Regions from separate parts of the Homo sapiens genome. Here all the other regions are reported to be linked to region 1. Evidence: microRNA targets listed by miRTarBase, many of them from high-throughput screens and not tested one by one. Region 1 holds a microRNA gene; each other region holds the end of a gene's coding sequence.

Region 1 (4,374 bases):
AGTGATCCTCCCACCTCAGCCTCCCAAGTAGCTGAGACTACAGGTGCATGCCACCATATCTGGCTTAAAATTTTTGTTGTTGTTGTTGTAGAGATGAGGCCTTACTATGTTGCCCAGAGCTGGTCTTGAAACTCCTGGCTCAAGCGATCCTCCTGCCTCAGGGAATTTAAAAAGCAAATAAAAATTTTAGGAAGACCAACTTAAGTATATCTATGTTTCCAAAATACTCTAGAATATTTTATTATATGCTGGAGATGTTTATTATTTTTCTTTTTCCCCTTTTATTCCATCAATAAATGAGCCATTTAGATAGATTGAGTAGATGACATCAAAAAATGTGACACTATATTGTAGTCATCTTAAATGAGTTCTGGCAATCTTAAGATGGGCCCTGCTTCAGTTGGGAGGGTTTATCGTCAAGCTCGTGGTTGGCAAGAAGGGCGGACTAGAGTTTTGCATTTCAGAGGCTTGGGGCCATCACAGATACAAGGGAAAGAAAAAAAAAATTTCCATCCTCTCCTGTTTTGTCCGATGAGTCACCTTTTAAGGTGTGGTATATAGAGTTTGCTAAGGATTTCTGTTAGTGTGTTAACATTTTCCCCAGCATTTTATTATGAAAAATTTCAAACATAAGCAAAGTTTACAGTGAATACCTGTATACTTACAACCTAGATTCTACCATAAACATTTTACTATGCTTATTTTATTCTCATATCTGTTTATCCCTCTATCCATCCTTCAAGTAATCTGTTTTTAAGTGCATTGTAAAGTTTACTTTGCCCAAATACTTTAACATGCATATCATTCACTAGCGTTCAGTGTTTTTTCATATTGTTTTTCCTTTTGCTTTAAATCTTTAGTAAAGTACACAAATCTTAACTATACATAATATGTTGGGTTTTAGTAAAAATCTTTTAATTTTATTATTCAAAGAAAGGAAGTATCACACTTGGAGAGAAACCCCCATTAGAGCAGGTCTTGGTTTCAGTATCATTAGCCTTCTGACTCCTGTGTTCTCTTACCTCTCTTGCTGCTGTTCATAGCACAAACTATGAATATCAGAATTCTCACAAGCTATGTTTTTTATTTGGGAATTCAGAACTGCAATGATAAACCCATGGTTTAAGTATTGCAATTTAGAATTCCCAAATAAAAATCATAGCTTGTGAGAACTTAGTGTATATAGATCCAGTGACTTGAAAATGTTGCAAAAAGTTATTGAATTAGGATTTTACCTAATTCAATACTTGTGAACCAAAGGGAAAATATTATTTAGGGCCTTAAAAAGATTATAAACCTAACTTTGCTAACCCACAGAATGACCAGAAACCTGCTAATTGAGATTACTAGGTTTGTAATTTGAAAATCGCGGGGAGAGGATCAAGCAGGAGTAGCAGTGGTTGGAGGCTCAGATACCCCATTTTACAGTGTGAGTTACATGTATCTCTTTCTTTTTTGTTGATGGTTGCCCACCAGGTCTGATCATTTAAAGTATATGAGTTTGGCTGTGCTTATTTCAGCTGTAGACTTGCCCGTAGGTGTTTAGTTTGGCTTAAAAGTCGTCTTACCTTACTTGGAGGGTATAAAGCCAAGTGAACTAGTTTCTCCCCAGGCTAATTTTTCACACCGCTCTTCTTTGTTACAGAGAAATGATATCGCCATGGCAATTACAAAATTTGATCAGTTTGATTTTCTCATCGATATTGTTCCAAGAGATGAACTGAAACCTCCAAAGCGTCAGGTGAGCTGTGAAGGGATTGCAGTTGCTGCTGACTGAAGAGCGCTTTGTATACTGGTGTCAGATACGCTCCTTCTCTCTCAGCACAAGTCATTTGCTATTCCTTTTGCTTCTCGTTTCTAGACCAGATTCATTCTTAACATCTCCTTCTGTTACTCATTTCTGGATACTTTTAACTCAGTGCCTCCGAAGTGGTATTTCAGTGAAAATAGACAAAATGAAAATGAAAGACTTTAGTTACAAATGGTAAAGTTAAGCTCATTTCAAGTTATCTTAGGAAGTCTATCAGAGCTCTTCATCTGGGATAGGAGAATATTCCCAGAAAGTTATAGATTTTAGATTTTTAAGAAACAGCTTCTCTATGTGCACAGTGGCATTTGGAGTGAATGGACTATGTTTTCTCTTCCTCTATATTGTGGTTCATTATATCTTTATATAGTACCCTGACTGCACACTAGAATCACCTGTTGGGGTTTTAAAAATATCAGCGCCCAGGCTCTAACCCACATCAGCTGAATCAGAATCTCATGATGGAGCCCAGGCATCAGTACCTTTTAAAACTCCCTGGATGCTTTTAATGTGCAGTCAGATTTGAGAACCACCACTTGAGCTGTTTTGCAAGCAATCACAAGAAAGAATATGAACGTCTGCCTTCCCGTCTCTTCTGCCTGCCCCTCTCCAAAGGTCACACTAGTTGTTTTTTCAGCACCTTGGGTGCATATAGCTCTTAATTGTGATTGTAATAGACCTCTGTCCTTTAGAGCTCATTGTTTTAAGCATGCAGATTGCATGATTCACTAGGTGCCACTTGGGAAATTGTGGCAGAATCTCACAGGAGCAAAGCTGTGCCTTGTTCTGCTTGCTTTGTTATATAAAACTTTATTTTTAATGAATTATTTCATAGTATATTATCCTTAGAAGCAGTCATTCAGTGACAGCCATTCTCCCCATCCCAGCCTGTATTAATAACCAGTCAGAGAAAGTCTAGGAGAAGTGGGCATCCTAATGAACATTTGTAATTCTGACCCTGCATGAGGGCCTTTGGATTAGCAAGCCCTCTGTCACCTCCTTACTAGAGTAGGGTGTGCCTCACTGCGTCTCCGTTCTTTCTGGGCAGTCTTTGCTACTGTAAACATCCTTGACTGGAAGCTGTAAGGTGTTCAGAGGAGCTTTCAGTCGGATGTTTACAGCGGCAGGCTGCCACGGTCGTCCCCAGCTACGCACCGGCTTTGAAACATTGCAGGTTTGTGCCCACAGGCTCAATTCCTCCTCTTGGGGGTCCTTCCCTCCTCTCTCAGAAGTCACAACAAGAACTCAGGCCATTTATCTTCCTTCAGAACAAAGAGTATCATACACCTGCTTTCCTTGTTGAAATTGTTTTCTCCTTTTGTCTATCAGAAGCCCCCTTTAAAACAAGATTGTGAGCTCTGTGATGAAATCAGGCCTTGCTCACTCTCATTGTGCTAACTCCTTGTTTTCTGTGGGCTGCCTGCTGAATACACTGGCTGGAGAGAAGGGTCACATCCTGTCAGTTCCTCCAAATTCCTCAGTGCTTCTGGGTCTCTCGGGGTGTCATACAGCTCCTTATTCCATCTTAGCCAGACTCAAAATGCTATGATCCATCTGATTTTAAAGTGTGTCTAGCTGAAACAGCTTCTTGTTGCTTGGATTTAGTTCTTTGTAGGTGTTCGAGGCATTGATTGGCATCGTATTCGGGACAGCTGCTGCCTGGCCTTTGAAAGGTTGAGATTGCTGAAAGCTGGCCTGAAATTCTAAGATAGCATTTTTAATCCTCTGTAGACATGAAGTTTTCCCAGGCTTCAAATTGGCTGGCACCTCCTAAAGTCCTTTAAAACGCCTACTCTCCAAAACCCACCCTTTCTGAAGGAGGCAGCAGTTCACTCTTGCTACTAAAGCGAATGTACTTTTTTCCAGTCAGGGCTGGTTGCACAACACTGTAGAGATGGCCCTAGGATGTGATGCTGCTCTTCTCTGGCACTGTTCGTCAGTCTCAGCTTCTGGAAAGATTCCAAGAGCAAGCCCTGTAGTTGGGGAGGCCACTGCTAAAGTTGAGCAAGTGCCCCATTCTGGATTGATCCAGTCATTAAAGCATTGTTCTGCCACTTGGGGCAACCTCCCACTGCTGGGAAAAGGAACTAGTCAGAAATACTGAATTGTGAGTCCAAGGCCCTGACTTCTCAAAGATACTTGAGAGTTTCGCTTGTTCTTCAGAGAAGCAAGTAAAGATTATTTGAAGGTAGGAGGTAGTTGAGGCCTGACTTCTGCCCCACTAAAGCTATTGAGTTGAAAGTTCCTGCCCATTGAAATGTCATTATCTTTTCACCCATTTCTTTAAACCAAGCATAATCATTTCCTTGCTGGCTTGACCTCCATTGGCAGAATGAGTCTTCATAATGCAGAAGAGCCTTAGATATGCCTTCTTCCATTCCAGTGATTTGAGAACAGTTGTGCCTTGTCCTAACAACACAAACCTAGGTGCCTCCACTTGATTCTCAGTGTCCTAGATACTGTCTAGTTCATAAACAGTTTAAGAGGATGTAGTAAGCAGCATAGGAGGAGCTCTTGTCCTGCTCTCACAGCTTTTGGCAAGAGATATTTTGGGTTCTGGAAGGGGT
Region 2 (4,374 bases), not on the chromosome of region 1:
AAAAGTGTTCAGAACTATATAATGGGAAAATAAGACCCATGGATTGAAGTTGTAGTGTTGTGGAAAAGAAAAGTTGCTTAAAAAAATGGTTGAGTTTGTTGGTTTTTTAAAAATTCAACTTTTTCATTAGGTGAGAACTAGGACAGTTGCTGAGTGTGTAGCATTCTACTATATGTGGAAGAAATCTGAACGTTATGATTACTTTGCTCAACAGACAAGATTTGGGAAAAAAAGATATAACCATCACCCTGGAGTTACGTAAGTACTGTGGCCTTGCCTTCAAAGACTTACTTTTAACTGTAATATATAGTCATAAAATTACTGGGGTGTGTTTTTCAGGGACTATATGGATCGTTTAGTAGATGAAACAGAAGCTTTGGGTGGGACGGTAAATGCTTCAGCCTTAACTTCTAACCGGCCTGAGCCTATTCCTGATCAACAGCTAAACATTCTCAACTCCTTCACTGCCAGTGACTTGACAGGTAAAATGAAGACCTTTCTGCATTTAGTACAGTTTGTTGCAAAATTGTGTCCTCTGTTTGATGTCATAGGACCACTTACTTAAACAATTTTCCATTCCTTTTTAGCTTTGACCAACAGTGTAGCAACCGTCTGCGACCCCACAGATGTGAATTGTTTGGATGATAGCTTTCCTCCACTGGGCAACACACCCCGTGGACAAGTTAATCATGTGCCTGTTGTAACAGAAGAGTTACTCACCCTGCCCAGCAATGGGGAAAGTGATTGTTTTAATTTATTTGAGACTGGATTTTATCACTCGGAGCTAAACCCTATGAACATGTGCAGTGAAGAGTCAGAGAGACCAGCAAAAAGATTGAAAATGGGCATTGCCGTCCCTGAATCCTTTATGAATGAAGTTTCTGTAAATAACCTGGGTGTGGACTTTGAAAATCACACACATCACATCACCAGTGCCAAAATGGCTGTTTCTGTGGCTGACTTTGGCAGTCTCTCTGCCAACGAGACCAATGGTTTCATCAGTGCCCATGCTCTGCATCAGCACGCGGCCCTACACTCTGAGTGACCTGAGTGAGGATCCCGGAACTGCGTGTGCAGCACCAGTAAACTTGAGGGGAGCTATCAGGTTTGCATAGTCTTTCACTGGAAGTTTGAACCTTTCTCACTATGACATCAGTGATGTCAGTATGTATAGAACTATATCTTGATTTATCAAGAGTATTTTCATTTTTCAATCCATAAATGTGGAAATGAACTATGATCAGCAGAGTTGGGAACTAAGATTGAACTCTGTGGTGCAGCTTTAAGCTCTGCTTCTCTCTTCCTCATCTCCCAATACCTCTTCCCCACTCCCTTCTTTTTCTATTCTTTTGTGTTCCCCACTGCCCTCACTCCCAATTTTAAAACCTGTAGACAGAGGCCACCAGCTCAAAACCAGCACAGATGTTCTGAACTGAATGGTGTGGCCTGTTTTTGTGTAAATTCCTTTTGCCGTAATGGATGCAGTGGAATAACAATGTTTACAGGTACCGATCCCGATCCCTGCTCAATGTAGCATTTTTTTGGTTTTATTTTCTTAATAAAAGCAGGGGTAGGTTTCTTTAAACTGCACAAACATGCAAGGATTTTTTAAAAATGGAAACTTCTCTCATGTTATTCAACTAGAGCACTTCAGTTTACAAAACAGCAAGTCCATCTTTATGGAAGCCAGCACAAGGAACTGTGTGCAAATAATGAAGACGCTTGCTTGGATCCTGTTTCAAAATTCTAGACCAGGGCTACCTTACACAGAATTGGTCATGTTACTGCCAGGAGATTTCTGTGTAACTTCATTTATTGGCTACAGTTTTGGCATTTGAAGATGTGGTACTCAGATGGGGTTTTGTCCACCATTGTCAAGATTGTAATCTTAAAAATCATACCAGTCATTGATAATTTAGTTTATCCTGAGGCAGTCGACTTGCAGAGGCACAGTCTACAAAGCCTAGGATGTTGCCACTCAATGGTTTACATTTTGGGACATCTTTTAAGTTGTTTGTAGCACTGCAGTTCAAAGTGTTAATATTTAGAGGGACTTCTAGATTTTATACCTAATGCAGTAGAACCTTGAAGTATATTTAAGCTTTTTTGTTAAGCTTGAACAGTTGGCAAGAATAATGTGAGTTCCTATCTGAAATAGAATGGTACATTACCACTTTTAAGTTTTAAAAATTGATAGATGTTCAGATGTATCTCAAACTCAGTTTTATTTTTATTCCAAATATTGTGAATGAGAAGCCATTGTCCTAAACTTTGGCCATTTTTGTGCTATAAACATGCATTTTTAAGTTATAAGGTGAATCAAACAATATGTAATACAGTATTAGGATGTAATCTTTGCTTTTGTAGTACTGTTAAAATAGAGAATTATGTTGTTTGCACCGTCTTAATTAAAATTCTTGATTTTTACTAGTTGCTTTGCAAAAAACAAATGTTTGGCTGCATTGCTAATATTTGTAAGTATAAGTTGCTTCAAGGTTGTGCTGATGAGTAGATAGGATGTAGTGATCTTAGTAGTGATTGAAAGGGAGGGTATTTATTATACAAACTGTGAACTGCAATGACATCCTTAGTTTTGGATGATGTGTATTCTTGTTTTTCTTTGCAGCATTTTAATGAAGATTGCTTTGAAGTGTTTACGCAGTAGCACATTAGTATAAAATTTAGTTTAGCACAGTGGACAAAAAGTAGTTAAATTAATAACTTAAAATCAGTCTCTAATTTATACATCTGAAGTATAGCATTCCTGTATGCACACAGTAAATAATGGGTAGCCTGGGCTCTGTGTTACTTTCTTGTATTTTTATCCAAGTTGTCAGCTTCTTATTGCTGTGTTGTTGTGCTAAACTTTGAACCTTATTTCTTTTATTAAAAATCAGTACACTTTCTATAATTTAGTAAGATACTGGCCATAATCTTCCATTGTTATAACCTTAATTTTCACTCTGGGTTTACAGTGGCTGGTCTGTATAAATAATTTACACAAAGATGACTGAATGCTAATACCAGTTGCACTTAAATGAACATGCCCATTCTCAGTAGCTGATGCAGTAATATATTCAGTTTATCTATGCATTGCTGGGGTCTTGATATAAGATGGAAACAGTGTTTCTTATCTAAAGTTTTGATTATCAGCAAGTTGAATGGACACTTTAGTTATTTAAATAAAGATTTTTGACCAAAATCCAGAAAATGGTATGAGAGAAAAATAAATTCCAGCTAGTTTAATAGATTTTTAAATGTCAATCTGATTTTAGCCTCTTAGAGAGTGCTAACTAGCTGGTAATGTTTACTTTTAATTCCTTGTTAAAATGAGGCAATAATTTGCAAGATTTTTGTATATAAGTGTAAATTCTTCATATCTTTTTAGATCTAATTCAATATTTTCTGACTACTTCTGCCATGTATAATACCATTTTTGTGCATGCTTGATGTGACATTCATAAATTGTACCACTATGACTTTATCCATGTAAAATAGCTATTTATTGAATTTTCTTTTAAAAGCTGGATTTACTGGGTTTTTTTTTTCTCTCAGTTTAAACATCTTAACAGAGAATTTGTTACTGTTTATTAAAAGAATTGCATTTGGAAGCAAGAAAACAACCGGATTTGCAATCATGTGAAGAAACAATAATGCCTTTATTATCAAGTGTTAAGCACAATTCTTATAACAAACTGTGATAAATTCTTTTTGTTTTTTTTTCCTTTGCCCCATTATTTTCTTATGAACAAACCAAAAATTCATGGTGAGCAGTTGCAGTGTTGGCTGATATATCTTTTATGTACAGGGAATTTGAAAAGGACAGTGGATTCATTTAGAAGTGTAACTGGTGCTGTGATTATAGCAATACATTTGTTAGTTGTACTTCATCTTTTTCATGCTAGCTTTTTAAATGTTTAGTTTTCCTCTTGTCATGGTCAGCTGCTGAATTTACTTGAAGGATGTAGAATACTGTTTAAAAAATACTAAAATTTGTACAATTAGATCAAAGAATTGTGCAATCATTTCCTTTTTAATTTTTAAAATGTTGAGGCTCATAAATATTTGAGAACATCAGATCTAATAGAGCATAGTGATACTATTTAATTTAACCAAAGTCTCTAGTGAATATTTCAACTTTGAATGTAAACTAACAAATAAACCTGACCACCAAGGAGATTGTTTGCCCAGAGTTTCAAAGCACATTGTCTACAAATGGAAATTGAAATAATTTATAAAATATTGACGTTACTATGTTTTTTAAAAAGTTCCTAATTTTTTCACTAAATGGAGGAAACTATTAGTTTTATTGTTAAATATGGTAGATATTAATATTCCTCTTAGATGACCAGTGATTCCAATTGTCCCAGTTTG
Region 3 (4,374 bases), not on the chromosome of region 1:
AAAGGCTCCAGCCCTACGCCCTCAGCCCCCACCTCCCACCTCCTACCTCTCAAGCTGCCTCTCAGCACCTCACTGTCAGGCCCCAGCACAGGCTAACATTCCATTCCCCTCTGCCCCAACCTCTCCCTCACTCCCTCCCACACTCCTGACCCTCCCACACTCCTGACCCCCTGAGCCCCCAAACAATTCAGGAATGGGAATATTGGCAGCTCCTTTCCAAGATGAAAACTGGCTCGGAGAGGCGCAGTGACCTGCTGGAGGGGGCACTGGAGCCAGGCCTGGGCGGCCCTCGCTTCCCCCATAACACCTATGTCCAGGCAGATTCCCAGGATTCCTGGTGGCTTTGGGTGGCCCCTGCTGCTGACCAGACTGATGTGTCTTTCTCCTCCCTGCTCAGGTGCAGCCGTCCGGCCAGTCGGCCTGCCTCGGGGCCCTCCTCTTCCTCTACACGGGAGACTTCTTCCTCCACATCCGGTTCCACGAGGACAGCACCAGCAAGGAGCTGCCACCCTCTTGGTTCTGCCTGCCCAGTGTGCACGTGTGTGCCCTGGAGGCGCAGGCCTGAGCCCGCCTACTTCCGTCCCTCTTTCTGCAGGGCCAGAGGTGACCCTGCCTGGCCTCCCACACCCCCTGCAATGAGCAAGGCCTTCACTGCAGCCCCATCTCCTCCTCCTCCCCCAGACCCCTCCCAGCCCTCTCCTCCTGTTCCTCCTGTAGCATCTTTGCTGGGCTACGCAGAAGCCCCGGACATGGCAGCCCCACCCCATGCCACGCCCCTTCCTACACTGTTCCCTGGACCATACACAGGCTGAAGCAGAGGAAATCCCAAAGCGGGTGCCCATCCAGCCCAGGTCCCAGGATCCCTGCACCCATTTCTGTGACCTGGGGCCCCAGCCGTGCTGTGCTGCTCATCCCAGCAGAGGGACCTCCCTCGTCCAGCGACTTCCCTTTGGCCATAGAAAGAAATGGTGAGCATGAGACTGGGCACAGCCTGAGGGCGTGGGCAGCTTCCCACCCTCCCTGGGCCTTGGAATCCCCCAAGGCTGGTTTTCTTCCTGGAGACCCCCATGGGCAACTTGGCAGGAGAGATGGTGCCGTAGGAGGTCGTGGATGGTTGATGCCAAGAGAGGCCCTCCACCCGTGGTGGGCAAATGTCCAGGCCTGGGCTGGCAGCCCAGGGCTGTTTCTGGGTGCTCCCTGGCCCCAGGGTGGCGTCTGGTTACCATGGCTGTGTGTGTCCATGTCTGCAAGCAGTTCTTCAATAAATGGCCTGCCTCCCCCTCCCTGCCTCCCTGCATCTGCTAGCCCAGTGCAGTCCGGGGCCCCCACCCAGCCCGTCAGCCCCCACCTCAGGTGGCTGGCTTCCCAGCAGAAGCCGGACCCAGGAAGGGACGGGTTCTGAGTTAGAGATCTCACATAAGCAAACGCTGAGACAGGAATCTGGTCACCAGCAGCTTGTCTGGGAGGTGGAAGGAGGCCTGCAGGGGAGGGAGATCACCAGTGAAGGAGTGTGACTGGGCCCGAGCTGCCGCCACAGTGGGCAGCTGGCCCTGCGTTCCTCAGGGAGGACCGGAGAGAGAAAGCACACGGCTCACATCTCCCTTGAGGGCCAGAGCTGGGGTGTGTCTACACTACCCACAAGAGTCCTGTTCTGGGGGCAGGCTTCTGGCTGTGTTGACCCTTAGCTCCCCAGGTCCCAGGGAGGATAAACAGCCCTTGGTCCCCAGCAGATACCAGGCTCGTCAGGTGCCCGTTGGGCACTGAAACTCCCATGGAGTATTGGGGGACAGAGAGCGGGGCTTCCTAAAGGCCAGTTGGCCAAACAGGCAGAGCCAGGAAGTGGCTGCCCTGGCCTCCCATGGGGCAGAGTCATGTTGGCATCAGGAGGCCTGCGGGGCTGAGGGAACTTCCTGAGGACCTGAAGTCCCAGGCCCAAACCTCCCTCGCTGGGAGCAAGGTCACCCTGTGGCCTCCGGCCTAAGGAACAAATTTTTTGTTCCATCTGTGGCCTCCTGTTGTCGCTCAGTGAATGATGGGAGCACACTGTGATGTGGTGTGGGCTGGGGGCATGTGGGGGCGGGTGTCCAGTGGCCCTCAGTTCCTGGAGCTCATTCAGCATCTGCTCGAGGCTCCCCAGGGAAGGCAGCCCCAGAAGGTCTGGCTGCAGTAGGGGGTGGAGACCCCAGGGCGGTCTCTTCAGCCCTTCCGTTCAGGATGCCTCAGCGTAGTTGAGGGCCTGGCCACCTGGGCTGTTTCTGAATGGAACAAACAGCATCCATGTGTGTCAACCTCAACAGAGCCCAAAAATACGCCATTGAATGAAACAACACATTGCAGGATGATGGGCTCAGCCCAACCTCACTTGTGTAGACAATGTCCCCCCAAATTATAAATTTTCTATGCCTCAGAACGTGTCTATAACAACATGTTTAAAAGGTAGAAAGGATACACATCCCCTGTAGAAGAGTGACCTGAACTGGAGTTGCATTTGACATCTGATGTCAGCATGAGGGTGCTGGTCACCGGGGACTTGAGTACGTACTTTCCTTTCAAAAGCACAATAGATCAAGATACAGGTACACACATAGCTACAGATATAGATCCAGCCACAGATCCAGATTAGATATAGATGCATATAGAAGCCTAGAAAAGCCAATATGGAAAACTCTGGCAGTGTTTGATTCTGAGTGGCAAGCATATTGGTGACTGTAATTATTTCTTGCAGTTTTCTATATTTTTTAGTTTCCCAAACTGCAAAAAATACCCACAACAGTTACCAGAGAAAATGCTGGATGCCACAAGAAGGAAGAACCTCAAGGGGCAGGAGGCAAAGTTGTCTTCTTGGAGGAGGGGGTGTTAGAAATAACCCAGGCCTCCTGGAAAATGACCCAAATACAGCCTGGCTCTGCCAGCCCCAGGCCCTTCCCCACCCCCAGGGCACCCTTTCTGTCCCAGTAGAGAAGGTGACCTGGAGTCAGGCCTTGTGTGTGCTCCAAGCGTTTGGAGCTTTACCGTGGGATGTGGGGAGCCAGGGGTGTTGTTTGCTGGCATTTCTGTGGCTGGGTCTTTCTGGCTGTGGAGCTGTGTTTGTGGGCAGTGGCTGAGATGGAGGACCTGGGGCAGGTGTCTCAGTGACAGCGCAGTATCCTCCAGCCTCTTCCAGGGCCCCACGCTACTGGCTACCTGGCAATACAGTCCAGCAGTTGCTGCTTCTCTAGGCCCCTGGTGCATTCAGAAACCTCCTGAAGGCCAGCGGAGGGTAAGCCAGGAACAGATCATGTCCATTGCACTTCACTAGCTGAGCGAGTTGGTTCTGCCCTTCTGATCCTTGGTCCCTCAGGGCCAGGACAGGCCCGGTGACCCCATAATCATGCAGCCGTCATGCTCCGTCATCTGAAATTCACAAGGAAGGCAAGGATTCAAAGGAAGATGTCTGAGATGCTGAACTCCAGCTCAGCCACTTGTCAACTCCTTGACCTTGGACAAGTTACTTAAATTAAGCCTTGATTTTTTTTCATCTGAATAAATAGAGATAAAAATACTTATTTCATGGACACTTTCATATCAGTTTATTTGATTTAACCTCCTAGATTTTTTTTTAGCACATGATAGCAACTTCTTAATAAATACTGGGTCCCTTCTCCTAGCCTTCCCATTGCTGTTCTTTTTAATTCCATCCACATGTCCTGTGCCTGAAATATCCTGTGCCATGTGCCTGAAATTCCATTCTTCTCCTGGAACCCTTAACAGGCCACATTGCTATGCTCCGTTAGTCCCCTGCATGGCTTAATGTATTAGGTAACATGAAGCATGTAAGGAAGAACTTTCTAACACAGGTGCTGAAATGGGACAGGAAATGCTGATGGAGTGAGCTCTTTGTCAATAGAAGTATTCAAGCAAAGTCCGGACCTGTAGATGGTTTCAAAACATGTAAGCATCATTTGGGGCTTCTGAGCCTACCAGCCAAGAAATTGTCAATGATGACTTGTTAAGAGGTATTTCTGATCCCAGTAAGCAGGGAAGAGAGAGAGATGTATGTGACCACATGGCTCTTGGGGCCTCAAGCAATGTCTTAAGACACAATAAATTTTGATCAAAAAAGGCTTTCAACATGAAGGGCTAGAGATCTAGACTAAGGGTCTAGGCTAAGCCTCTTACTGAAAACACATTTGTAAGTGCATCCATGACCCGGCAGGAGAGTCAGAAATATTCACCCCAGTACCTGTGTGTAGGCAAAGTCCTGGGAGGTGAGCTGTGCACTGATGCCAACTTCCACTTTGAGGGGTTTTGCCAAAGCTGGAGTATCAATGTCTTCAGCCTTCCAAAACTGGAGGAAAGATGACAAAGCTCAGGGCCCACTGGCTGGGGAATCGA
Region 4 (4,374 bases), not on the chromosome of region 1:
AAGCCGGAGGCCATCCTCACGCCACTCATGCACAACGGCAAGCTCGCCACTCCCGGCAACACGGCCAAGATGCTCATTAAAGCAGACCAGCACCACCTGGACCTGACGGCCCTCCCCACCCCAGAGTCAACCCCAACGCTGCAGCAGAAGCGGAAGCCCAGCCGCGGCAGCCGCGAGTGGGAGAGGAACCAGAACCTCATCAATGCCTGCACAAAGGACATGCCCCCCATGGGCTCCCCTGTGATTCCCACGGACCTGCCCCTGCGGGCCTCCCCCAGCCACATCCCCAGCGTGGTGGTCCTGCCCATCACGCAGCAGGGCTACCAGCATGAGTACGTGGACCAGCCCAAAATGAGCGAGGTGGCCCAGATGGCGCTGGAGGACCAGGCCGCCACACTGGAGTATAAGACCATCAAGGAACATCTCAGCAGCAAGAGTCCCAACCATGGGGTGAACCTTGTGGAGAACCTGGACAGCCTGCCCCCCAAAGTTCCACAGCGGGAGGCCTCCCTGGGTCCCCCGGGAGCCTCCCTGTCTCAGACCGGTCTAAGCAAGCGGCTGGAAATGCACCACTCCTCTTCCTACGGGGTTGACTATAAGAGGAGCTACCCCACGAACTCGCTCACGAGAAGCCACCAGGCCACCACTCTCAAAAGAAACAACACTAACTCCTCCAATTCCTCTCACCTCTCCAGAAACCAGAGCTTTGGCAGGGGAGACAACCCGCCGCCCGCCCCGCAGAGGGTGGACTCCATCCAGGTGCACAGCTCCCAGCCATCTGGCCAGGCCGTGACTGTCTCGAGGCAGCCCAGCCTCAACGCCTACAACTCACTGACAAGGTCGGGGCTGAAGCGTACGCCCTCGCTAAAGCCGGACGTACCCCCCAAACCATCCTTTGCTCCCCTTTCCACATCCATGAAGCCCAATGATGCGTGTACATAATCCCAGGGGGAGGGGGTCAGGTGTCGAACCAGCAGGCAAGGCGAGGTGCCCGCTCAGCTCAGCAAGGTTCTCAACTGCCTCGAGTACCCACCAGACCAAGAAGGCCTGCGGCAGAGCCGAGGACGCTGGGTCCTCCTCTCTGGGACACAGGGGTACTCACGAAAACTGGGCCGCGTGGTTTGGTGAAGGTTTGCAACGGCGGGGACTCACCTTCATTCTCTTCCTTCACTTTCCCCCACACCCTACAACAGGTCGGACCCACAAAAGACTTCAGTTATCATCACAAACATGAGCCAAAAGCACATACCTACCCCATCCCCCACCCCCACACACACACACACACACACATGCACACAACACATACACACACACGCACAGAGGTGAACAGAAACTGAAACATTTTGTCCACAACTTCACGGGACGTGGCCAGACTGGGTTTGCGTTCCAACCTGCAAAACACAAATACATTTTTTAAAATCAAGAAAATTTAAAAAGACAAAAAAAAAAGAATTCATTGATAATTCTAACTCAGACTTTAACAATGGCAGAAGTTTACTATGCGCAAATACTGTGAAATGCCCGCCAGTGTTACAGCTTTCTGTTGCAGCAGATAAATGCCATGTTGGGCAACTATGTCATAGATTTCTGCTCCTCCTCTCTTTTAATGAAATAACGTGACCGTTAACGCAAGTAACTCTTTATTTATTGTTCACCCTTTTTTTCCTTAAGGAAAGGACTCTTCCAAATATCATCCTATGAACAGCTCTTCAGAAAGCCCATTGAAAGTTAAACTATTTAACGTGAAATCCATTAACTGGAATAATTGAGTTTCTTTATTTTTACAATAAATTCACTGAGTAAATAAGTTGGAGCTGGAATTCTGAGCTTTGTGTTTGGACTGTCTGGTCTGTAGCTAAAGGAAAAAGTTAGGAGGGGAATATTTATTTAAATCTATCAGTTCATTGCCTGGTCAGGTCTCTGGCCTATAAACATGCAAAAAAACTAATTCATGTTAAAGTCCTTCCAGATCCTAATTTCTAAAGCAATCAGGAGAGAAAGCTTTTAGAATGGCACATCATATCTCATTGATGCCAACATGGTTTTGTCCATGGTTCTGACTTTCTGTGAAGGCACCAGCTTGCAATATGCCATCCCATTTCACCTTGCATGTGAGACAGCAAACAAAATCCACAAATGGTGTGAACTAATATGCTGGCTGCTACCTTGCATAAATTAATGATTTGATCACACGGGTTCTTCGTGGGGTTACATCTGTGAATAGCCTGTTTTCCACATGTAAATTTGTGCCTTACACCTTGAGTTGTGTACACTTGTAAACTCTTTATGATCAACTGTTCCCCCTTTTGAAATAAGTGCAGATATTTATTTAACCCTCCCTTCCCCACCCTCTGCCCCACTTCCAGCCCTCTGAAAGATTGGAGTCAAGCAGATGGAAGAATGCAGTGGTGATAGTTGTCATGCGACAGCCTGAGAACGCTGGGCAGCACCACACCCTCCAATTCACACTGCCTTCTAGTTGTGCCAACTGGAACCACCCTTTGGCTGTGCTGCGAAGCATGGACCCCAGTGTTGTTGTGGGTGTGTCAAATCCCCTTTCATCCTCAAGAGCTCCCTGCTTCCCTTAGATTATTTCAATACGGTGATATCCTTATTTGCTAGCAGAAAAGGGACTAACGTCCCATTCCTCTTTTCTGCTGCGTCCACTGGCTAGAGAGCAGGCGGTGCGCGGTTGGGCAGACACCTGGGAGGAGTCTCCAAGCCATGTGCACAGCACACACGTGCAGTGCACACAAAGAAATGACATGGAAATAGATGCAGGCAGGCTGGTCCCTGCTGTGATTAACGAGTAACTCCAAGTACAAGGCCGACCACAATGGATGCTGCAAAAACGTTGACTGGGGCAAAGGATTTTTTATTTTATTTTTTATTTTGTTAATTATGTTTTTAGGGGATGGGAGGTGGTGTGTGTTTTTCTCCTCTTGGTTTTCATTTGCTCAAGCACACAAAAGGGACTTTTGTTTACTCTATCATGAACAAAGGAACTGTCCACATACTGTAAACCATGAGCAGTGTTGTTGTTGTTTTTTTAAACAGTATATTTGGTGGTCTCTTTGTCTGCTTTTATTTCCAGTTCGATCTTCTGGGTTTAGTTTTGTCTTTAAAAAGAATTCAAAAAAAGACTGACAATGACAGTTTTGAGTTGGATAGTGAAAAAGTGGAGCCTCCATAATCAGTGTGGTTGCCTTCAGACCTGAGTACTTAGCTGAGGGTGGGTGAGAGCCCTTTGTTCCAAAAGTCCATTAGTTTTGCTGTTGTTTAGGAGTAGGTGGTTGTTGTTGTTTTTACTTTTTTTTTTTTTGGCTTTTGTAATGGAATCCATGTTCACATCCTGTGAACTCTGTCTCCTGAAACCCTGAAGTATTTCCTAGAACCTGAAATATTGTTTTCTTCCTTGAATTTTCTCTAGAAATGCAGAAATTAGGAAGGTGATGGGTCTGTATCCCCCTGCCCCCTTCTTTCCCATGCTTGACTCCCGAGAGTACTGGCAGTGCAGCACCCATCATTGACGTAAGCGGCTGTCTTGTCCAGTGTTTGTAGGCATCACTGCCTCAGCTGTTAAGGAGACCTGTGTCAAAACTTACATCCACATTCCTACACCCCCACAACCCATCACTTCTGGTGTTAACCCTAAAATACCCACATGTATTGAGCTGGTCTTCTGCATTTAAGTATTTCTCCCCAGTTTTTTTCCCCACTGTGTGTGGGGGGAGGGTCCATAAACCCGAGTGTGCCTTTGCTTTCCACCCTTGCTAGACACTGGTAGATGCAACAAACTCAGATTTATATTTGTTGTAAAGTTGTAAAAATATTGTGATGTCACCAATTTTCCTTCCATCTCCACATCCCCTAACATCTGATTCACGACTTAATGTATGTTGTAAGAAAAGAAAAAAGAAAAGAAAAAAAGGGAAAAAAGAAAAGCAAGGAAAAGGCTCTTTATTACTTAAAAGTAATAAAACCTGACTGTTCTATATTATCTTTTGTGTCCTGAATGCTTTTATTTATCTCTTAATTTTTCCTTTTTAAGCTGCTCTCCTCCCCACCCTTTGTGGGTATGATGCTACTCTTTCCTCCATTTGTATCTGGCTTCCAAAGCATACATAACGGTATAGTTTGATGTATTTGTTTGCAGTGTCCACACCCAGCCACCCCCACCCAAATTATTGACGTGTTTCTCTGCTCAAACCCAGCCTGGAGCAGGATTTTAGCAGAAGCCACCGGTAATTAAAAAGCAGAGCATGCATTGGCTCCTTCTATTCATTTTATGCATTTTCTTTTTATGGGCTTGTTCATCATCAAACATTTATGGTAGGCTTGATAGTTTAAGAGATCAAGGCTAGGATTTTAGTA
Region 5 (4,374 bases), not on the chromosome of region 1:
AGACCCCGCCTCTCTACAAAATTAAAAAATATATAAAAATTTTGAGCATGTATTAGAATCACCCAGAGGGCAGAGAGAGTATGGAGCACCCCCACAGTATAGTAGGTCTGGGCTGGAGCCCAAAGATTTGCATTCCTAACAAGTTCACAGGTTATACCAATGCTGCAGGTCTGGAACCATGCTTTGAGAACCACAGCTGTTAACATATATGCTCTACCTTATAATTTCATCTCTTATTTGTATTGTCTAGAAATAGTCCTGAATTATTCTTAGCGTATCAGTCTGTCTTCTCGACCAGATTTCAATTCCTGCAGTGGCAGAGGTTGTATATATTTTCTACCACATCAATTAGCATTATTGGACACATAGTCTACTAAGTACTTATACACTGGGAAGAGCTTCAGAGAACTTGAATTCTTCAAGGAGACAGGGATCAACTATGGTTAATTATAGGATTTCCACATTTTGCAAAAGATCATCTAATTTTTCCTCATCATTCATATTTGCAGAGAAAAGTCTTCATTTCCTTGAGCAATATCCTAATCTCATTAAAGAAACACTCCAGTCTTGATTTAGGAAAAAAAGATTCATTCCTTCATCCTTCCAAATAAGGTACAGTACAACTCAATAACAATGCACATTACTGAAAAACACAATTGCGTCTTATATTGCTCACTACTCTTTAAGTATAATTCAGATATTAAGGAAAATAACTGCTAATCACATTAACACATTACAGAAATCAAAATTAACTTACCACACAAAATAAATTAAAACATTAAATATTAACCTTTTCAGTGCAACATATACAGACATCAGAGTAAGGAGTTCTAAAAAAAAGCATCAGGTTTATTATAATAAAGATAATGAAAAGTTGACCATTTTAGTAAATTATTAAGACTAAGAAGAGGAGTTGCTTTTTCAGTACTCTCTCTCTCTCTGTGTGAACCACTAGATCTTTCAGAAAGCCTGGTAAATCAATGGCTAGAGAGAACAGGTCTTATGTTAGAACATTTAAAAATATACATGTTTGTCTTACTTCTGCAATGTGTTCTTGGTTTTGGGCATTTGAGTCATTCCTCCTTCTGTGACTGGGCAGGTTGGAAGAGATCAAAGCCCAGAACCAACTAGAGGGCAGGGGTCTCCTGAGCAGTGTTAGAGCCTCATTAGTCCATCCCGGCCAAATTGACTGAAAAAGCAACTGGTGACCCATGTGCCCTCGAAAACCTGGCTTGAAGATAACAGGCAGTTTTCTGTACCTGCAAAACACAATCCCTTGAGAAGCTCCAGAAGCACAAATTCTCCTCCCTTACCAGTGTGGGTGGGTGAGTGGCAATCCCATCTTTTTCTCCTTTCTCAGGGAAAAGAACTCTAGGGCCATTCTGCCCATCTCTCCTGCGGGGACACAATGGCCAGCCCATCCCTGGCTTGGTTCCACGTGTGTCCAGCCGGGGCCCTGTCTTCCAGATCAGGGTTGGCTGCTGTCTATCTTTCCATGTAGAAGAAAACATTTCCTGTCAGGATGCTTAAAAAAAGTCACAGCCTGTAGAGCAGTGGGAAAAATCCAGGCTCCATAAGAGTATTGGAGGCCTTTTAAAAAATGTTTGTTATTTTTTTAAATGGGGGCTTTTCATTGTCTCCTGAGCCATTGGAAACAGCGATGCTCCCCACTGCCAGGTGTGTGGCAGCTTACCAGGTCAGGATGTTAAATGATTCTCTAATTGTAGTGAACAATTCATTTTCTAAAGGGCAAGGAAACACAGGGAGCTTGCAGAGATGGATTAGAAGATGCATTTTTAACTTGAAATGGAGTATTTTTGCAGCTAACCAAAGACTACCATTGCCATTAAATGGCAGAGGGATCCAATGCTTATCAGTCATTTGATTTCTAGAAGAAAAATCCCCAAATAAGCCAGGCTGTTCTATCCTGAGGCATGGACAATGGTCCAACCAGGCTTGCATTGATGCAGCCTCTTTTTCAGACCTGCTGGTTTCCAAAGGACTGACTTGGAAGGCACTTCTAGGGAGGCGTATATGTGAGGCCTCTCACTGCATGTGTGTTACAGGCATAAGGATGAGGGCACTGGCAGGTGTGACTTGCTGGACCTAGGAACTAGAACATTCACAGACACTAAATCTCAAGTCTTCGCAGGGAACCTCTGCTTCCGCCATCTGTCCAGCCTCATTCCTACGCCTCTGCAAAGTCTCTTGGATGCTAACTACTGATTGATAGAGGTCTAAAAACCAGTGTCCGTTGATTGGTCTCTAAGCAGGATGCTACAGTCAAGCCTCAACCCACATATCTGGCCCAAGGGATGTAAACTTGAACTTATTTTAGTAATTTAAAAACCTGGAGCTGTGTCAACTACGTTGCTAGGGGGTCAGCTCTGAACAGATCCAAGTGCTTCAGGTGTGGCATTGTTAAATAAGAGTGCCAAAAATGAAGACACGGGTCATAGAATTGTCTGAATTATAAAAAAAAATAAAGAGAAAATTCATAGAAATTGTTCTTCCAGACCAAGGAAGAAGAATTAGGGGAAGACAAAATTCTCTGAAAATTTCAAGCCAATTTAACATATTTTAAATGTACCTTTCACGATGTAATAAGCTAGGTGCACTTAAGAGTTAATACATAGAAATCTTTCACTTTTCAGATATTAGTAGCATTTCCTCACATAAGGAGTTTATATATTATTTCTTCATTACTCTGTTTCCAAATTTTAATGAAAATTCCTAGGGATGAGCTATCCACTATGTATTTGAAGGGACCCACTGTTTCTCACAGGCAGGCCCCATGGGTCAGATGGACCCAGATGCTCAGGGGAACAATTGCTCCTTCTCTTGAGGGGAAAGGAAGACCCACATAGTGGAGGTGACTTGTTAGAGTTTTTGTTAATAAAGCCGGCATCCTGAATGGAAATGAGGAAAAAAAAATTACTGGAATAGTTTTCCTAGTGCTCGAAAATAAATAGCAAAGTTAAACTTCTCCTTTTAAAAATAAAGCAACAAACCAACCAAGCAACAAAATGGAAAATAAATGACTGGTCCCCCTTTCATGGATTTGGCCTGAAATGCCTATGGCTCGTGGCTAATGTTCTATTTCTAAACATACTTACCGAGGGCTCACGAGGAAGTGAACCCATTTAATCACTGAGCAGTACAATATGTATTGGGTTTATCCTGTGTAGACACACACACTCTTCCTCTCTCCCCAACAGAGGGGACAGATCCCTGCTGATGGATTTGCTAAGTTTTCTCCCAGAACGTATTGAGGCATTTACCGGCTTTGTGGCTTCAATGGCACCATTTCTGAACCCCTACCTTTATTCCTACCAGTAACCCAGCCTCTGGTTCCATCTCCGCACCCTGGAAGACTTTTCCCAAGCCTTAGCTGTCTTGAAGAGGCCAGACATTTCTAATCAGTATAGCTTTTCAGTCAGCAACACATACATCATTAATGTAGAAGTCTGAAGGGGTTTTATACTTTTTACATTGACTTAAGAGATTAAAAATAAAACCATTATCCATCTAATAAATAAGACATCATCTCCAAGGGTGGCGATAGCTTGGGATGGTCTTCAATGTCATGTGTCCATGGAAGATGTTGGGCTGGTTGAGGGTCTCGTGGTTAGAGGATACAGCTTCTCTTAAAGCTAGGGTCTTCATGTGATATTAAACAGTTTCCCCTCCTTCACTTTCTTCCCCAGTAGGCAAATGACAGAAAACAATAACTATAGAAATCTCCTGTGTTGGGCAGAATTCTGTTGTGGGGAGGTGGCCCATTAAAAAGAAATATATAGCCTGGAATCCATGGCTGGCAGAAGACAACTGCACACATGTGGACTCAGACACCAACTGCTGCACACACCTCACCTAGGTGAACAGGAGTCCGTCTCTTTGCAGTTCTTTTTTAACAAGTCTTGAAATCGTGGTCCGCTGATTTCTTCTCTAGGTCACACTGAATAACCCCAAGCAGACGGAGTTCTTGACAGAGTTTTGAAGGCCCACAAAAGGCTGCACAGGTGATTACAGGCCAAGTAGGAAGGTCTGTGGCACACCCAGGCATCTCTGGCAGTGCTGTCCTGAAGAAGCCTTTCTTTATTGATCTGCCACAGTCCACCTGGCCAAACTCCTCCTCTGGGCTCTTCAGACCACTGGCAGGAAGGAAAAACAGGTTAAGCACTGTGGGCCACACCCTGGCCACGTTGGGAAAATAAGCTTAGGAAAGAGACTTGGAGATGGCAGAGCCAATGTCACCAAGTTCTCTCGGGCAGTTAGGCCCGAGTCCAAATTCTGCTGGTTCAGTCTCAGGGACCGCAACCTCTGACCTAGTACTTTCAGTGCCAAAGGAAGCTAGAGAGACTGATTGAAAGT
Region 6 (4,374 bases), not on the chromosome of region 1:
TTAACCAGTATTTCAGTCTTCTCTGCCCTTGCGCATGTTCTCCAGGATTCCCCCGGAGATTTACCATGGCTGTCTTTCTTTAATGGGAGATAATAGTTCTGTTTAATTTATTGAAAATATTTGTTAAACATCTAATTTCTGTGAGACGTTAAATGGAGATCGTTCATATTAAACTGATTGAAGAAGTTTGGAAAATAATTGAACTTACATATGTACCTTTGCCTTTTAAATTTTTTATTTTTTAAAATTTTCTTTCTCTAGTGTTCTTTTGAAGATGACAACATCCGTTCCTTATTAAAACCTTTAGAACTGGAACTACAAAAAACAGTGCATACATACTGTGGAAAAATTTACAAAATATTTATCAAACAACTAGCAAAAAGTGTAAGAGATCGTTATGCCAGATCACCAAAGGAAAAGTGATTCTTGGTGACTGCTTAATCAAATGGATGAAAACAAAGAATCAGAAGATAAGTGTGAAGGAATCGTCTTGGATGAAGTATTCAGGAAGGAATTACTCATCTCCAGAATAATTTTTTTTTTCCTAAAGAAGTTAAGTAAGCAGTATTTTCAGGTAATGAAGAATAAGTTAAAATCTTGGGCCTCAACATTGAACATTTTTTATCTCTGATGTTTTGTAATGTTACTTGCTATCATTCCAGTATTGATGAAAATACTATTGAATGGGTTTAACCTGCAGACTTCTGTTGACTCATACTCTCAAGAGTGGTAGGGGTGTGTAGATGGAGAAAATGTACCTCAAACAGTGCCAACACTCAAGACTGTGAGTAGAGCAATAATTTTATGTCAGCACTAACCTCACTTTAAAAGTGTGAGAAAAAAGTTTGTTTACAGGAGCAGAAACAGGTCTGTTGTTTCTGAAGAAATGTGATGTAACTGATGTAACCATTGACAATCTATGTGTGCCTTTATACATTTCATCTCTGTTTTAAAATATTTTTATGACAATCATGTTTAAAATTATTTTTAGATTACAAGTAAGCTGCATGTTAAAAATTGAGCTGTGTAAGGTAGAGGAAAAATAGTGAAAACTTTGGGATTTTAATCTGTGTGTGCGTGTTTGTGTGTGAGAGAGAGTGAGAAATGTAGTGTTTCATTTTGTATGCATTAAACTGTCTTGCCAAAACTCAGATCTAAGATTGTTAAATAGATATTTGGGGAATTTTTTTTTAATCACTTTAAATGAAAAACGTCAGCTTTACTGGGCATTCTGGAAGCAAAATATATTATGCTGATGGTAAAGTGAGAACCTTAAGAGTATACTCATGATGGTGGAAAGTGTGATGGACCAAAATGCATAAGCTATATACTTCCTGTGAGTAGTAATTTTAGTTACAATGGAGTAGAAAAATATGGTCCATTTAAACTTGTCTTCTACCTCATAACGGCCTTGCAAGATACTTTTGAAGAAGCAAATGTCTAGAGCCTTACTTTAAGTAAGTTAAACAACTTAAGTGGATGATTTGGAATAAGATTGTTACATCCAGCTGTAGAAAATGTGGTTTTAATTGGGTTGATGTGCATTTTTGAATATCACCTAAGACAGTTAATTTTTTTAAATCTTGAGAAATTACTTCTTTGGCATTCTTGACCTGTTAGCTAATATAACTATAGATTCTGAATACTTAGCATATACTATGCTGGGGCACATATCTTATTTTACCAACAATATGATTATCTATATGGTTATCTTCTTTTTCTCCCTGATATTTTAATGCTCAAGTAGAAAATGGAAAATCATGAAGGAAAAATACAACCTGTGAAAATTGTGGCAGTTAGCTTTGTGAAGACACAGTGACCTCTGTGGAGACATGGAATATGCAGAAAGAGATGGTTAGTACAGTTGTTCTGTCGTCTGCAGTTCAGTCAGGGACAAATTGAGAGAGGAAAGTTTAAGCAGGGTGCATTAGAAGTTGATAACCAGTCCAGCATTCTTAGAACAGATGGGTTTAGAGAACACGAGTTGTAGTTCCTTGGCAGAATGCCATGGTGAATATAAGAAACTGTGAAATTGAGCTTACTGAGTAGAAAATGAGAATACTAAAAATGTGAAGTTTGGAGGGTATGTATTAGATCATTTCTAATGGTCCTCAAATAATGATCATTGCCTGCCTGACTATGTAAGATTCTTGTTGGGAGCTTAAGAATAGATTCCTGAGCTAGGCCTTTGGAGACTCTGGCATGCTGTGTCTAGGAGGGAGTCTGTAAAACAATTTTTAATGAAGAAATTTAAAAATTACACAAAACTAGAATAGTGCATTGGTACTCAACATCCAGATCTGACACTTATCACTATCTTACCATGTTTGCTTCATTTGTCATTTTTTTGTTTGCTTAAGTATCTTAAAATCCCATACATTGTGTTATTTCACTGCTGTGAACACTTTGGGTAGATACCACGATATCACACCTAACAGAGGCAGCAGCAGTCCTTCGGCTTCATCTCATAGCCAGTCCTTAAGCAAATTTCCCTGATTATCTCAAAAATCATCTTCTAGTTGGTTTGTTAGAATCAACAGAATATAAGTCACATGATGATTTCGTTTTTAACAATCACCTCAGATGACTTTGATGTTAGCTACTTTGAGAACCACTGGAAATTATTTTGCCAACTTGAAAGTTCAAGTTAGGATACCACAATTCTTGGCACGTTTGGTGGATTATAAATGTGATTTTGAAATATTAGAGGAAGCATTTGGGGTTAATGACAGGATATGAATTTATATTAGTAAGTTTGATAAGATAAAATTTCCTCAGTGAACGGAGAATCTCAGCCCCATGGGCTCTAATTGATTGGGACTTGTGTAGAGCGTGGTCACAGTTTAATCCAACTGGACTGTATGCTGTGGTCTCACTCATGTTGTGGCTTATTTACACTGTCACACACACTACATTGTGGATCAGTTGGAAGGTTCTTCATCTGGTTTATTTAGACCTGACCTAATTGATCATTTTACCATAAATTGAATTATAGTGAAAACTGTCTTTTGGGTACTGTTTCTACCTAAAATTAAAGGTATCACAAAATATGTATAATAATTTTTAAATGAATTTTCTGAATTTATCTTTAGACAAGGTAATTCTTTTGAATTCTAAAGAAATGCAGTTCTTGGAGTTGATGAGAGGTTAAATTATAGATGGACAACTTAGAGAACGTATTCCATCTTCATATAAATGGTCTTTCATAAAACATAGTGTATCTATGCAGTTTATATAAACTACATGATTTATTATTTGAGTCTATGTATTCTGACCTCAGAACTATCTCTGGGCTACAGTATTACCAAAGTGGGATGCCTTTAAAATGCAGTCAAACTTCATTTGTATGAAGTAGAAAAGAACTTGGGAAACCTTTAAAAATATATATTGTGATTTATGCTTTAAGAAAATGCATACTTTTTTCTAATGAAGAGTAGTTCATAATATATAAGGGTTTTAAGGCCCTGAAATAACATTAGTGCTTACTCATTGCTCTCTCATCTTGCCTCCAGTCAGATGTTATTGGTATAGTGAAAAGAAGACCAGATTTTGAACTAGATCTGGATTCTCTTTTTAGTAACTCAGGCATGTTATTTACCCTTCTCTGTGCCTTAGGTTTTTAAGTACAATCAGTGTACCCTTCAAACCTCACAAGATGAAACTCAGAAGAGATAATGGATTTGGAAGCATTTTGCGTGGCTTATATTATGCCACGCCAGTGTTACTGTTGAAGTTCTGTTTTGTTCGTTGTTTTCTGTACAGAGCGTTCAGTTTACTCAGGCTGAATGTTTTCTGACATATATCTCCAGTATGAATTTGTTTATGTAAGGAAGAGTTTTTCAGGAAGAGAAAGTAGAGAAGAAAAGAATGATGTAACTAAATCAAAAAAGAAGGAAAAGAGAGGAAGTGAGAAAAGGGGTGAGGAAAGAGAAAGGAGTAAGAATGGGGATGGCAAAGGGCAGAGTAAGAGAAAAGATGGAATGAGTGTATGGAAAATTGAGAAGTAGAGATGGAGAGAAATGGTGTGGAAACATTTACTTTTTGAGTTGTAGCCCTCACACTACATCAGTTTGCTTGCCTGGGCTCTCTGGGGTCAGGAAAGGTGCTGACTTCCATGGAATGGGGCAGCAGGGCCTGCTGTATTTGGTTTGTTAGTACTAGAGTTGTTTCCCAATCACCCTACTCACTGATCATTTAGTGCCAATTCAACATTTTATGTCTTTTTTTTTTAGTGGATCCCAGTTTGTGAGCTAGGACCTGTGGAAATACAAGTATCTTCCTTTTTAACTTTATTGTTTTAGCCATCCCAAGTGTTAGACTGCAAGACTAACTACATATTCCCCAGTGGAGGTTGGAAGTGGAGGGGACTGCTTC
Region 7 (4,374 bases), not on the chromosome of region 1:
AAAGAGGTCCATTCTGTAGTGGCCTTTGTAATTCAGTAGACCTATGAAAATCTGTGAGGACTAGCTGTGTGTTGCAGGTCATTAATTATCTCTAAGCCTCAGTTAATTCATTTGTAAAAATGAAGCCACTAGTACCTGTCTTGCTGGACTGTTGTGAAGAATACATTAGTCAGTGTGTGAGAAATATCCTCACATGATGTCTTGCACATAAAGTGAACCATGACTATAAGTTTTTATTTTTTCTCATTTGTCTTTTTCAGTAGATTTGTAAGTACCTGTTTGGCCTTAGGCCTTTAGAGTATCATCATAGTATCAGATCAACTTAAGGCCTTCAGTTGTTTATTATAATGATATATGTAGATAATTTTTTTTCTAAATAACGTCTTACATAGGTTTTGAAAATATATATATTTCTAAAGTTTTAATTAAAAAAAATTTATAATTGAAACTTTTACTAGTTGTGTACCTGTCCCACCATGGTCATGAGGCATCTGGGGAGCAGCATTGTTGGGCTTTGTTTTTCCATCTGAATGGTAGAATTGGTGTTCCTGAGGGTGGGGAGCCAGGCTGTGTCTTTTTAGAGCTGAGTAAAACATGTTAGGATTCTAGTTATCCAGCTTTTAAGAACATGTTCTGTTGTTGACAGTATGCTAAGCTGGGCCTGAGTTTGGTGGTTCCAGGAGGGGGAATCAAGAAGAAATCACCTGCAACACCACAGGCCAAGCCTGATGGTGTCACTGCCACGGCTGCTGATGAAGAGGAAGATGAATACTCAGGAGGACTATGCTAGTATTTTGCTTGCTGAAAAGAAAAGGGAAACAAAGGTAAAATCCTGACATGCCATTTCAAGGACTTGGGAATAGATTAGGGATATCCGTACTTCATTACAGTCATGATTTTGGATCCTAATAAAGACTAGTTTTTAGTTACCATCTTCCCAAATCACTCATTGTATCCATTACCTGTGAAGCATATCTTTTTCTTTCCATAAGAGCTTTTCTAAGACACCAGCAGGAATTAACAGAAAATGTACTGTCATGTTTTAATACATTGATTAAAAAATTTGCAAGCCAAATTATACATAAATTATGTTCTAAACAAAAGGGGTAATAAGCATAGGTATTCTCTCTTGGACACTTGTAAGTTACTGTTAGTGAATTGTTTTTTACGTTTCATTTAATAATTGCTGCTAAAGGTGATGTTTACTGATAAATCATTTTAAAATTTTTTTGTTTTGAAAAGTAAATTTATCCCCCATGATGTTAGATACATTTAAATTATTAAGTCTTTTCAGAGATGAGATGGGGACAGGAAGTTATTTTGAGCCTTACAATATTATTTAGCCCAATAAAAGATGCATTGAAGCTCTTATATATTATGAGTTTGAAAAATTTTGAAGGTAGCATATTGAAGTGATCTATAAATATCTTCAGTCCTCTCTGAAGTGTGGGTATTTCTTCTATCTAAAAAATACATACAGTGACTGTCTTCAAATCTACTTGGTTCTTGACCAAATAGGAGCTAATGGGTAATGAATACCTTTTTGTTTGTTTGTTTGTTTGTTTTGTTTTTTGTTTTTTTTTTTAAGGGTCTCACTCTTTTGCCCAGGCTGGAGTGCAGTGGCACAATCACGGCTCCCAGGCTAATGTTTTTATTTTTAATTTGTAATTTTTTTTTTATTTTTTTTGTTGAGATGGAGTTGCTCCATGTTGCACAGGCTGTTCTCAAACTCCTAAGCTCAAGCCATCTGCCTGCCTTGGCCTCCCAAAGTGCTGGGATTGTAGACATAAGCCACCTCACCCAGCCTATGAATATCTTTCTAACATTGTAAGAATGAGGTAATGTTTCCATCAGTCTAATACAGATATATTTCTTCCCTCCAAAACAGTTTATTTTGATTGTTTATTTTATTTTGATTGTAACTCCGTCATAACTTGACATGGAAAATGCTATATACTATGAAAACTTAGCTGAAAGGGAAGAATTGTTTTAGAAAGACAATATTTAAAACACCGCACTGCCAATATATTGATCCTTTATAGTTATTTCCTAAAATGCTGTTTTCGAAACATTCCTTTTTCACCCTGTTGTGTGGCTTAGACCCATCTCGTAATCTGTTAATTGGAAAGAGGCTACAGACACCAGCAGTGTGCGTTCTGCAGGTACACGCTGCCAAAGTAATTCCTGCTCATCCATGCCCTGTCTCTGTCTCTTTTAGAGTCATACCTTATTTGAGTATAGGTTGCTTAATTTTGCTAGACTTCCTGAAAACACTAAGGTGGAGTATCAGAAGTGATTTTAGTCACAGTTCTGCGGGAGAGCTTAGAATAACATCCTCCTTTGGGAGGTGGTCTCGGGTGCGTGGATGTTGGTATACAGTCTTTATTGTAAGTCTGATACAAAATGCTAATAAATTTAATGTTTTTCTTCCTTAATTTATTGGCATAGTTCTTCAGGTAGCACCTCATTTTTATTAATGATATTGGGATTAACTATGAACAAGCTATATGTAGACATTTGCATTTAAGGACATTGCAGTGTTTCAAAGATCCCATCATTGCAGCTTGTATCCTTTAGATCCAATCGGAAACTTCTGGAGTCTTACATTAATGCTCATTTGAGCTAATTAGTAATCTGTTTAAACAGATTTGGCAATACTTTAAAGATACTGTAGACTATTTATGTATAGATAGATCATATTACCCATTAAAGTCTGGGGGAAAAAATTTTTTAATTTTACTCTTCTTATGTACTGAAAACTTTTTTTAAAAAAGGTGATGATGAAGTGCATTCTGTAGCAGCAGCGCAGCTATGCTTTAAACCACACAAAAGGCTGTGTCCAGGTGCAGCCTCCTTCACCCTTCCTGCCCACGGTGAGGATTGAATAACCAGGACTTGGGGATATTGTTTGTTGTCAGGGTTATTCTGTGTGGTAAGGAATATTTGTTTCACATTTATACATTTTCTTTTTCCACTCACGTAAGTTTCTATCTTGAGAGCATAGTCCAAAGTGCAAAACTTGGTGTTTACAAGGAAAATTGTCTTCCAGAACTCCACTGTCATCACTTTCACCAAAGTGGAAGTTTGCATGAATATGCTCAGAATCTAATATTCAATGTTCTGTTACATTGTAAGTGAAGTCCAGCTACAAAATAGATTTAATATATTGAATTTATTTGTACATATGCAGAGTACGGTATTTCTGTATGGAATCTGCTTTATTCCTATTTTTCCCAACTCTGATGAGTAGAATATTAAATGTGTTGTTATGGAAATACAGATTATTGCTTCTATAGGAAGATAATTATGAAAATAAAACCTGAAACTATATAAATATAATTGTTCTTTGTATTATTTATTTTGTTTAGCTTGTTTTAATTTTCTTTTTTCCAGGGACACATTCTCTTAATTATATGACTTCAGCATTATTTTACAAGGACAGTATTTTGTTATCTGCAGTTGTCTTTTCTGCTCTTTGGGAGTAAGGTACCTTTGGGAATTTAAACTGTTTGAGCTTCTTAAAATACCAGTCATTCAGTTATTGTAATACTACATATACTGCTGTTTGGTGAGATGAAAGACTAATACCTCTTCCAAGAGAGTAATTCTTTGATTGGGTTAAGTGAGATAAAACCATGTATGATTAGGAGGCTAAGAGAACTGATGTGAAATTGTTTACATAATTAGCACCTTAAATACTAGCAGATTTACTTACAATCAGACATTTATTGGATGCTAACTATGTAATATTATCCCTGTCTTTCATGGAATGGAAATTAATAATATAATTTGATACCTGGATTCAGGAGAAGTTGAAGTAAGAAAGAATGCAGAACGAGTGGCTGTTGGACATCGTGTGATTTTGTGTTTCTTCCAGGACACCTTGGAGTGTCTTGAATGTGGTTTGTGGTCACTATTGTGTTTGTAGCAGCAAGAGGAGATAGCCAGGAAGGATAAGCAAAGTCCACCTGCTGCTGTCACCCCTCGTGTTGCTTTCATTCGACTCATCAAGAAACCCTCAATAATGACTTTAATGTGATGAGTTAAATTTAAGGATATTAAAAACGTCTTGAAGGTAAGAAGGACTGAGGCAAACACCAATTTTGAAAAAGGAAAACAAACTTTCCACTGAATTGTTTTTATTCCAACAAGGTTTTGTGCATAGAAACAACTTACATGGCTTTTAATTAATACTCAAGGACACTGAATAAAATGCCGTTAGATAATTACCTCCACTTCACAAACTTGGCTAATTAGCTCCCATAGAGTTACATTACCTTGATAGTTTTTTAATATCTGACTCTCTTAAATTTTTCAAGGAGCCTAATTTAAACAGCCTTAAAACTTTAAAAAATTTTTCCCACTACTTAAGTA

What was found. The annotated mature microRNA hsa-miR-30e-5p reads UGUAAACAUCCUUGACUGGAAG and lies in region 1 at 2,866-2,887, shown strand. An mRNA with a match to its seed (bases 2 to 7 or 8) in the 3' UTR can be bound and repressed. Matches are read on the target gene's strand: a 7mer-m8 pairs with bases 2 to 8, a 7mer-A1 pairs with bases 2 to 7 and ends in A, and an 8mer does both.
Region 2: the mRNA of MIER3 is a reported target of hsa-miR-30e-5p. Seed matches in the 3' UTR shown: 8mer at 1,497-1,504, 7mer-A1 at 1,654-1,660, 7mer-A1 at 1,985-1,991, 7mer-m8 at 2,652-2,658, 7mer-A1 at 2,968-2,974 and 7mer-m8 at 3,305-3,311.
Region 3: miRTarBase lists TRAPPC9 as a target of hsa-miR-30e-5p. The part of its 3' UTR that is shown has no 7-base or 8-base seed match.
Region 4: miRTarBase lists SEMA6A as a target of hsa-miR-30e-5p. Seed matches in the 3' UTR shown: 7mer-m8 at 2,980-2,986.
Region 5: miRTarBase lists TGFA as a target of hsa-miR-30e-5p. Seed matches in the 3' UTR shown: 7mer-A1 at 2,317-2,323.
Region 6: the mRNA of GXYLT1 is a reported target of hsa-miR-30e-5p. Seed matches in the 3' UTR shown: 8mer at 847-854.
Region 7: the mRNA of NAPG is a reported target of hsa-miR-30e-5p. Seed matches in the 3' UTR shown: 7mer-m8 at 1,200-1,206 and 8mer at 3,024-3,031.

The regions. Positions count from the first base shown.
Region 1 is chr1:40,751,506-40,755,879 of GRCh38, forward strand. MIR30E (microRNA 30e) reads left to right here and starts at 2,850; the gene lies at 2,850-2,941. NFYC (nuclear transcription factor Y subunit gamma) reads left to right here. Exons shown (of 10, transcript NM_014223.5): 5 at 1,646-1,741.
Region 2 is chr5:56,919,799-56,924,172 of GRCh38, reverse strand. It overlaps MIER3 (MIER family member 3), which reads left to right. Exons shown (of 13, transcript NM_001297599.2): 11 at 131-258; 12 at 340-482; 13 at 588-4,374. The coding sequence ends at 1,045. It also overlaps a transcript of SETD9 not described here. Among named protein-coding and RNA genes, the nearest start is that of SETD9, 12 kb to the right of the region's middle.
Region 3 is chr8:139,727,252-139,731,625 of GRCh38, reverse strand. TRAPPC9 (trafficking protein particle complex subunit 9) reads left to right here. Exons shown (of 23, transcript NM_001160372.4): 23 at 398-3,901. The coding sequence ends at 565. Among named protein-coding and RNA genes, the nearest start is that of KCNK9, 26 kb to the right of the region's middle.
Region 4 is chr5:116,443,181-116,447,554 of GRCh38, reverse strand. It overlaps SEMA6A (semaphorin 6A), which reads left to right. Exons shown (of 19, transcript NM_020796.5): 19 at 1-4,000. The coding sequence ends at 942. It overlaps SEMA6A-AS1 (SEMA6A antisense RNA 1), which reads right to left and starts at 57. Exons shown (of 3, transcript NR_109879.1): 1 at 1-57.
Region 5 is chr2:70,446,713-70,451,086 of GRCh38, forward strand. TGFA (transforming growth factor alpha) reads right to left here. Exons shown (of 6, transcript NM_003236.4): 6 at 572-4,154. The coding sequence ends at 4,147. Among named protein-coding and RNA genes, the nearest start is that of TGFA-IT1, 33 kb to the right of the region's middle.
Region 6 is chr12:42,083,835-42,088,208 of GRCh38, reverse strand. It overlaps GXYLT1 (glucoside xylosyltransferase 1), which reads left to right. Exons shown (of 8, transcript NM_173601.2): 8 at 262-4,374. The coding sequence ends at 423. It also overlaps the pseudogene LOC101929308. Among named protein-coding and RNA genes, the nearest start is that of GXYLT1, 59 kb to the left of the region's middle.
Region 7 is chr18:10,549,431-10,553,804 of GRCh38, forward strand. NAPG (NSF attachment protein gamma) reads left to right here. Exons shown (of 12, transcript NM_003826.3): 12 at 647-3,334. The coding sequence ends at 790. Among named protein-coding and RNA genes, the nearest start is that of NAPG, 26 kb to the left of the region's middle.